Linked DNA regions of Homo sapiens. The protein of the gene in region 1 interacts with the protein of each later gene in a pairwise test. Each region holds a gene or a part of one and is shown in the gene's direction. Other genes may lie near its edges.

Region 1 (4,296 bases):
AACTAAAAATATTCCCCCGTATTCTTGGTATATAAACCTGGGACAAAGAAAAACACTCTGAACGATTAAGGAAAACTTTGGGACTCTTCATTTCCTTGAAAGCCTTTGAAAACCAACTGACTCCCAAACAACCCGTGTGTGTGTATGTGTGTGTGTGTGTGTGTGTGTGTGTGTGTGTCGATTGGGAAATCTGTGGTCAGACCCTCGGGCGAATGAGGAGAAGCTCATCCTCGTTTCTCCGGGCCCTCCTCCCAGGCGTCCGTCCAGGCAGGAAAGCCTCCCGAGAAGGGTTCCAAGTTTTGTGCCAACTTCCCTGAATTCTCGTTCCCCCTTCTGTGAAGTAGTGTTATTTAACACAAGGAAAACTGACCCTAGGCTCGATCCAGAATCTAACTCCCAAATGGGTCCTCAGGCTTAAAAAATACCTTCGCCCACAGCCTCTGTCTCCCCTGAAGAAAACGTTTTCCGTTCGGATGAGGCATCGGCCACGGGCAAGCAAGTGGTCCCGCGCCCCCGTCCCCTACCCAGGCGGCCGGCCTGGCTCCGTCACCGCCCGCAGCGTCCGCCCGGGGCCCGCGCGGGAAGAGGGTCCCAGCCCCACATGCTGCGGGGGCAGCCCCGGGACGCGCAGACGCCAGCGCCGCTGAGGGCCGGGGCCGGGACCGGCCGCGCGGCGGGGGCTTCCAGAGCGGCCGGTCACGCTTCCTTAGGTTTCAAGTTTCTAACTTGCTGAACATTTCAGATTTTAACAGCAAAAGCGGCTGACGTCCCCGCGGGCAAGCGGCCTCTCGGGGTCTGCAGCGCCCCAGGGCATCCGCGCCGCCAGCCCCACGCGCGAGCCCGCGAGGCCCCCGGGCCCCCGCACGTCCCGAGGCTCTGAGTCTGGACGAACGCAGGCCGCGTGGAGGGGCCGGCGACCCCTGCCCGAGAGCCGTCCCCTCCTGGAGGGAGCGAGCACAAGGCGCCCGCGGGACCCGGCCCGAGTGCCCGAGCGTGGAGGGGCGGGCGCGCCCTCGGCGGTGGGGCCGCCCGCAGTGCCCCCAGCGCCCGGGAGGGGGCGCCCGGCGGAGCGCAGGCGGGCGGGCCTCGGGCGGCGGGCGCCCCTGACGTCACCGGCCCGCGGTCGCCAGGGCAACGGCCTCATCCCGCGCGCGTCAGAGCCGCCAGTCTCTTGGCAACCGCCCGATCTCCCGCTCTCCCTCCGCCCGGCGCTCGGCCGCGCGTCGCTCTGGCGTCAAAGCGACGTCAATGGGCGGCCCCCGCCCGGGCGGCGGGGGCGGGGCAGGGGGCGGGGACTACGGGGGGCGGGCCGGGGCGGGCCGGGGCGGGGCCGGGCGCCGCGTGCGGCGGAGCGCGGCGGCTCCGGGCTGACATGCGGCGCGGCCCCGGAGGCAGCAGCAGCGGCGGCGGCAGCCGGAGCAGTAGGCACCCGAGCAGCGCCAGCGGCCGAGCGGGCGGCTTCCTGGCCTGGGCGCTCCGGTGGCGGCGGAGGTGAGGCGGCGGCAGCGGCGGCAGCGGCGGCAGCGGCGGGCTCCGGGCGGGCGGAGGTGGCCGCCGTGGGGGCTCCGCGCGGGCGCCGGGCCGGGGCTCGGGGTTGCAGCCACCGCGCAGGGTCCCTGGCCTTGCGCGCGCGGGGTTCGCGGGCGGGGTTGGCGGCCTGGCCGCCCTCGGGCTCCCCTTTGTTGGGGGGCCGGGGTAGGAGTGAGTCCGCGGGGCTCAGGGGCTGGGGAGCCGGGGGTCAGGTTGGAGCCGACCGCGGGCGGAGAGACCGGGTGTGGGGGGCGGGTCCGCGATCCCCGAGGTGCCTGGGATGTCGGGGGTGGGGACCGGACGGATCGCGGGCGGCGGGGGCAGGGTGTGGGAGCGGGGCAGGGGACGGTCCTGGGATCCGGATCGAGCCGACCTCGGGTGGCAGGGCCAGGTGTGGGAGCGGGTCCGCGCCCAGAGGTGCTAAAGGGGTCGAGGGTGGGGACGGAACCGACAGCGGGCGGCGGGAGGCGAGTGTGGAATCCCGGCTCAGGGGGTCCCGGGATCGGGACGGAACCGGACTCGGGCGGCAGGGGCCTCTATGAGAGCGGGTCCGTGCGCCCCGCGGGGCTCAAGAGGGTCGGGGGTCCGGGTGGAGCGGGCGGCGGGGGCGGGTCCACACCTCCCACGGGGCTGGAGGGGCCCGTGGATAGAGTGGGGGCGACAGGCGTGGGAGCAGGTCCCTGCGTCCCGTGGGGACTGGGGGCTCCGCGGGCACGGATGGAGCCGACCGCGGGCGGCGGGGGCGCTGGTGGGCTCTGAGCTCTGTGCGGCCCCGCAGGTGCGCGCGGAGCCATGGTTATCATGTCGGAGTTCAGCGCGGACCCCGCGGGCCAGGGTCAGGGCCAGCAGAAGCCCCTCCGGGTGGGTTTTTACGACATCGAGCGGACCCTGGGCAAAGGCAACTTCGCGGTGGTGAAGCTGGCGCGGCATCGAGTCACCAAAACGCAGGTGCGTGGGGGCGGTGGGACCCAGCCGGCGGGGCCTCCCCACTGGACCCGGGGCGACCCGACCTTTGGCGGGTGGACCCCATGCAGATTCACTGCTCCAGGCTTGATTGTCGTGGTGGGTAAATAGTAACCGTTTTTAGTTCGGTAAAGAAAAATAATGCTTTATATTATGTTGCTGCATAATTTGGACATATATTGGGAGAAAGCAGAGAGGATAATAGCAAAAAAAAGGACCAACCTAAGATTGCAGTGGTTCATGGACTCAGAGCTAAACCCTGTAAAGTGAGCCTGCAAATACTTAAGTCACTTACTTAACTCTGATTATTTTAAATAACATTAGTGGTTACTTTGGTTATGTTTTCCCAACTTCTTGTGACCTTCTGGAGACAGAGTGTTGAGAAATTAACTTGCAAAAAATGAAATGTGTAAATTAGGTTGAGGGTTTCTTTTCTTTTTTTAAAAAAACCCACAGAATATCCTTTTTCTTTTTAAATTTGTAGGTTGCAATAAAAATAATTGATAAAACACGATTAGATTCAAGCAATTTGGAGAAAATCTATCGTGAGGTTCAGCTGATGAAGCTTCTGAACCATCCACACATCATAAAGCTTTACCAGGTAAGGGGTCAGCTTGCCTTTCTCTGCTAATCCTGGCAAATGTGTTATATTTTATTTCCAACAGCATAAGTCTGCAATTTCTGAAGGTGGCTTCCCTTTTGGGGAGTGTGTGGAAGTTGGGCATTTGGTTGTATAAGGTAAATAGATTGATTTTTATAGGCTGTGCAGATATATTTACAATTATTTTATTGCTTTTGGATCATAATTGAGATTTGCTTCATTAGAATTTTATTTAGTATCCTAACCTGATCCAGTTTTAAATGTGTAGAAGTCTGTTGTAAATTTGCTTTACTATGAAAACAGACAAACTTATCTGTAGGTATTGCCACAGGTCACGCATTTAGTATAAAAGGACAAATTTGAGTGAAACTGGAAACTTCTGCCTTTGCAGATAATTATTAAACTTTAAAGCCAGCTGCTCTTACTGGTTTTCATTAGTTTATTTTTGCAAGGACAGTAGTGAGCATTTGTTTTCCCTATTTAAACTCTTCCATGAAAAACGGAGAGATGAAAATACTTTTCCATAGTAAGAGCAAGGAGCTTGTCATTTAATCCATGCTAGGAACATGGCTTGCCCTGTCTCTCTGTTGGTTTATTTTGTGACTTAATTTTTGTTCTCATGTTGAAATTAATAAATTATATCATCAGGAAATAAGTACTAATTTAATTAGAACAGCAAAGCAATCATTTACACCTCCCTAATGACAAATGACCACTTTTGCAAGGTGAAATCAAGTCTTCTTGCAGAAGAAGTTCTTTGCAGGTGCTATTTCATCCATTTGTGTTGGGTTGAAGTTCCTCGTAATGATTCTTATGAAATGGAATGTGAGATGACTCTGGGATGTTGTTGTGTGTGTTTGTGCAATTAGGACAGCTCGGTGTACAGTGTGGTAGGAGAGAGAATTATGATTCGAAATTATCCCCCAAAAGCCTCTGCACTAGATTGAAAATAAAAGTAGCAGTATTGGTGGAGCTTACGACAGTTTGCTCAGTGTCTTTAAGCACAGAATTCATGCCGTGTGCGCCTGGTTTGTGTTTTGTTTCTGTTGTCATTTTTAAGTTGTGTGCTCCATGGCCACTGGTGTACTGCCTGTGCAGCGTGCCCAGCCCATTTCCTCAGGAGTGGGCTGAGCTGGTTTTGTTTTTGACTTTGCTCAAGGGCTGAACCCTAATGGTAGTACCTTCCTTTTCTTCCTGTTCTT
Region 2 (3,956 bases), on another chromosome or scaffold:
TAATTTCTTCATGTAATCTGCATATAAAGCTTTTTGATAATTGTATGTGCTTAGAATATTTTCTCCTACTTAGTTGCTTGGCTTTTTCTACTCTCTTAATGGAATGTTTCATTGAGCACAAGTTCCTAATTTTAATGTAGTTTATTTCATCATTTTTCCTTCATGAGCCATGCTTTTTTTGGTGACATGTGCAAGAAATTGTTTATACTCAAAGATAATGAAGATATATCTTCTATGATATCATCTAGAAACTTTGTTTTACCTTTGCTGTGTAGATTTACAATTCATTTGGAACTGAATTTTGTGTGTGGTGTGAGGTAGAAAGTGAAGCTTTTTTGTTATGTTGATGAAAATAGAAAATGTCCAGCTTCTCTGTAGAGACATATTTGCCATAAATCAAATGTCCGTATGTTGTGTCAATTTCTGTACCTTCTGTTCTATTTTATTGGTCTATTTATTTTTGTGTTGCTACTTAATCATTCTAATCATGGTAGGTCTATAATTTTTAATATATGATAATGTGTTTCTATTTTGTTGTTATTCAAGTTTGTATTGCCCATTCTTGGCCCTTTATGTTTTCATAAAATTTACCTACTTGTCTATTTCTACCCCAAAAGGGAAAACAATTAAGATTTTGATACAATCTATTACAGCAAATATATTGATCAGTTTTAGGAAATTGCCATCTTAACAGTATTTTCTTCCATACCATGAACTTTAGCATGTCTTTCCATTTGTTTAGATCATCTTTAAATCATCTCATGATTTAGACTTTTCTGTTTAGTAATCTTGCACATCTTCTGTTAAGTTTATCTCTAAGTATTTCTTTTGATTCAGTTGTAAGTGGTATTTTCTCTATAAGTAGAAATCTGGATTGGTAGTTATTTTCTTTCAGCACTTTGAAGATATGATTACCTTGTCTTCTGATTTTCATTGTTTGTTTTGCATATGGATAGCTAATTAACCTGGCCCCATTTATTGGTAAAGTCAGCTATTGACCTTCTTGCTCCTTCGAAAATAAACGTCTTTTTTCCTCAACTTTTTTCTTTGTGTTTGTCTTGAAAAAGTTTTACCATACTGTGCCTGGGTGTGCTTCTTGAATATGTAGTTTGATGTCTTTCATTATGGAAAATTCTCAGCTTTTGCCTCCTCAAATATTGTTTTTGCTCCTATGAAAAAATTTTCTTGTTTTCTTCTGAACTATTTTTCTAGTTCACTAATGCTCTCTATATCTAATATCCTGTAAAAAAATCATCCACCGACTTCTTAATTTATTATGTTTTTCAGTTTTAAGATTTCCATTTATATGCTGAAATCATCCATTTTGTCACTTTATCCTTATTTAAATTGTTATACTAAAGTTCAGGTGTGATAACTCCAATATCTGGATCTTTGGTGGGTCTATTCTGTTTTCTTAATTTTCCTCTTTATTTTCTTTCAAGTCATGTCTTGTTATTTGTCTTCTTATTTGCTATTGCATTTCAGATGTTGGGTATGAGTAACTAAAAATAATTTGAGGCTGTGGATGATATCTTTCACTAGAGAAGATTAGTTTTACCCCCCAGGTAGTCAGAATAGGGTGAAATCAACTTAATCCAATCAGGCACAAATCCTTAAGAGGGCTGGTATATTTTTGTTTTACTACTCCTTGGAGTTAGCCCTTTGGAATCACAAATGAATCCCTGTTTTGTTTTGTTTTCTGTTGTTGTTTTTAACTAGGGCTTCTCCTCTTCAGCGGGCCCTGCTCTTTAATTTTTGTTTCTCACCACTCTGCCAAAGTCTAACTTCTGAATGCTCTGCTAAACTTCTTGGCCTATCAGACATTTGTTTTGTTTTAAATTGTCACTATCCTTGCGGGAGGAAAAGCATCCTCATTTTCTTTCCCTCCACTCTGGGACTTTGTAAGTCCTCACTACTTAAGTGTCTTTCAGATGCCTTCAAACAGATTTTAAAAATTTTGTCCAGATTTCCTAGTTGGTCTCAGAGAAAGGTTTGGTTTGAAGCAACATAGCCCTTGCTGAAAGCAGAAACTTCATTTTAAGTTTTGGTTAGATAAAAAATCAGAGCCTGTACTGTTGTTGCCATTTACTTATACTAGCATTAAAATTGTGTGTGTTCACATGAAACACAGTAGTGTTGCCTGAGTCCAGTGTGTTTTGATGTATGCTTAGGGAGGAGGTAATTAAACATTAATGAAAGAAACTTGGGGAAGATCATCCTATACAAACACCTTCATGAGAAAGCTAGCAGCAGCATCTCTGAAGAGGAACCCATGTCTTTCTAGCTTCAGGGTGAAGTGCAGTGAATGGGGTATGGATGGAGGACATTAAAATGGCAAAATCTTGTGGCCCCAAATAAAGATTTGGGGGTAAAACTGTTCCTGGACTCTCACTATGCTGAATAGGTTAATGCTTCTGCTGAGGTCAGTGGAATGAGTGTAGCTTGGTGCCCTCAGCTATAATGAGTGATGAAAACAATGCCTTGGATTGTTTTTGTTTGTTTATAAATCAGTTTTATGCACCCTACAAAACTGATCCACAAATTTCTTTCTATTTTGTAGCTCATTCACCAACAACTCTTGGACTCCAGCCCTTGTTACCCCATTCAATGACACAACTGCCAATAAGTCATACCTAATTCTTTTTTCAGGGATAGACTTGATTAAGGATATAAATTTGTCATTTATTATGTATAAAATACCATTGAAAAGATATTACTGTTAATTTTTTATTTAACACCTAAAGCATTTCCAACATCACTTTGCTGCCCAGGTATGTATCTATAGTTGGCCTGCAAGACACTTTTATTAATTCTTCATTTTTTGTAAAACTTATGTTTACAAGAAGAAAACAAATCAAAACATTTTTTGTATTGTCTGGAAATAGTTCACTCTAGTGTGTATCTGTTAATTTATTTGTCATCAAAAGAGCACTTTGCCTAAAAGAAAGGACTGACAAGTGTGCAAAATGTTTACAATCTTTTGTGAAATTGTAGTTTATCATTAGTTTGTATCTGTAAGTTATTGTAATAAATATTACCTGTATTTTTTGTTATATACAACTTTATACTTTGAAGCTTGTATCTGTGAATTTGCAACTGAAATTTATTTTGCCAATGTTTTCTGAATGAACTGAATAAAGCTTCTGTTGTAGCATGCCATGCAAACACATTATTGTGTTTGTGGTTGATGAATTATGGCTGTAAATAACACTATAGTTTAATAAGCCCACCATTCTGAGTTTATTAAACATTTTCCATTCTTGTGAAAATTTCAACCAGTTTGTCCTTTTTGTGTGTTTTCAGCAGTAAGTTGACTTTAGTCTCTTTAAAATCTAACAACTAATAAGTTTAAAAAGTATTGTGTTTTGAGCTGCATTGTATGAACACATTTGAGTAGGAAACATATTATTCAAAAAAAAAAAACACAGTAAAACATTTAATTTGGCAAAAATTGTCTTTTAGGCCAGCTAATAAAATCAATGTGAAAGAGAAGGCAGAACACTTTTCAGAATGGACTTCGGAGGGTATTACAAGCCAGAAATGAAATATGGGCCATAATATATTTCTTCAGGAGTGAAAAAAGAGAACTAAAAGTTTCTAGAGCAAGAACTCTTTGCATTTTCTTCTTGGTGAATACCCTTTAGGGATGGTGATTCTGAGAGCTGAAATCTTAAACCTCAGGACTTTATCTTATGTGGCAGTGGACTTACAAATTTTTGAATTTAAAGAATTTAGTACTCACTTTTTGTCTTTTTATATGCCAGTTGGGGAAGAAAAAAGGTAATGAGAAAAAACTTTTAGAACTTAGGTTTAAGTCTGTGTTTAACTGAGCAGATTTGCATCAGGCTGAGGACTGGAAATAATAGCAGAGTATTTGTAATTTTATTCTAGTAATCATAAATACAACCAGAAAGTAATCATATGGATATAAGTAACTTATCTGCCTGAAACCAGAA

What was found.
Region 2: the proteins of putative serine/threonine-protein kinase SIK1B (region 1) and LHX8 interact in a two-hybrid assay, tested with the Homo sapiens proteins (one large-scale study listed by BioGRID).

The regions. Positions count from the first base shown.
Region 1 is NC_000021.9:6,109,762-6,114,057, forward strand, and holds the start of putative serine/threonine-protein kinase SIK1B, read left to right. Parts: upstream 1-1,369; 5' UTR 1,370-1,491; intron 1,492-2,308; 5' UTR 2,309-2,322; coding exon 2,323-2,478; intron 2,479-2,977; coding exon 2,978-3,094; intron 3,095-4,296. UniProt on the Homo sapiens protein: Serine/threonine-protein kinase involved in various processes such as cell cycle regulation, gluconeogenesis and lipogenesis regulation, muscle growth and differentiation and tumor suppression. Phosphorylates HDAC4, HDAC5, PPME1, SREBF1, CRTC1/TORC1.
Region 2 is NC_000001.11:75,158,259-75,162,214, forward strand, and holds the end of LHX8 (LIM/homeobox protein Lhx8), read left to right. Parts: intron 1-2,560; coding exon 2,561-2,637; 3' UTR 2,638-3,275; downstream 3,276-3,956. UniProt on the Homo sapiens protein: Transcription factor involved in differentiation of certain neurons and mesenchymal cells.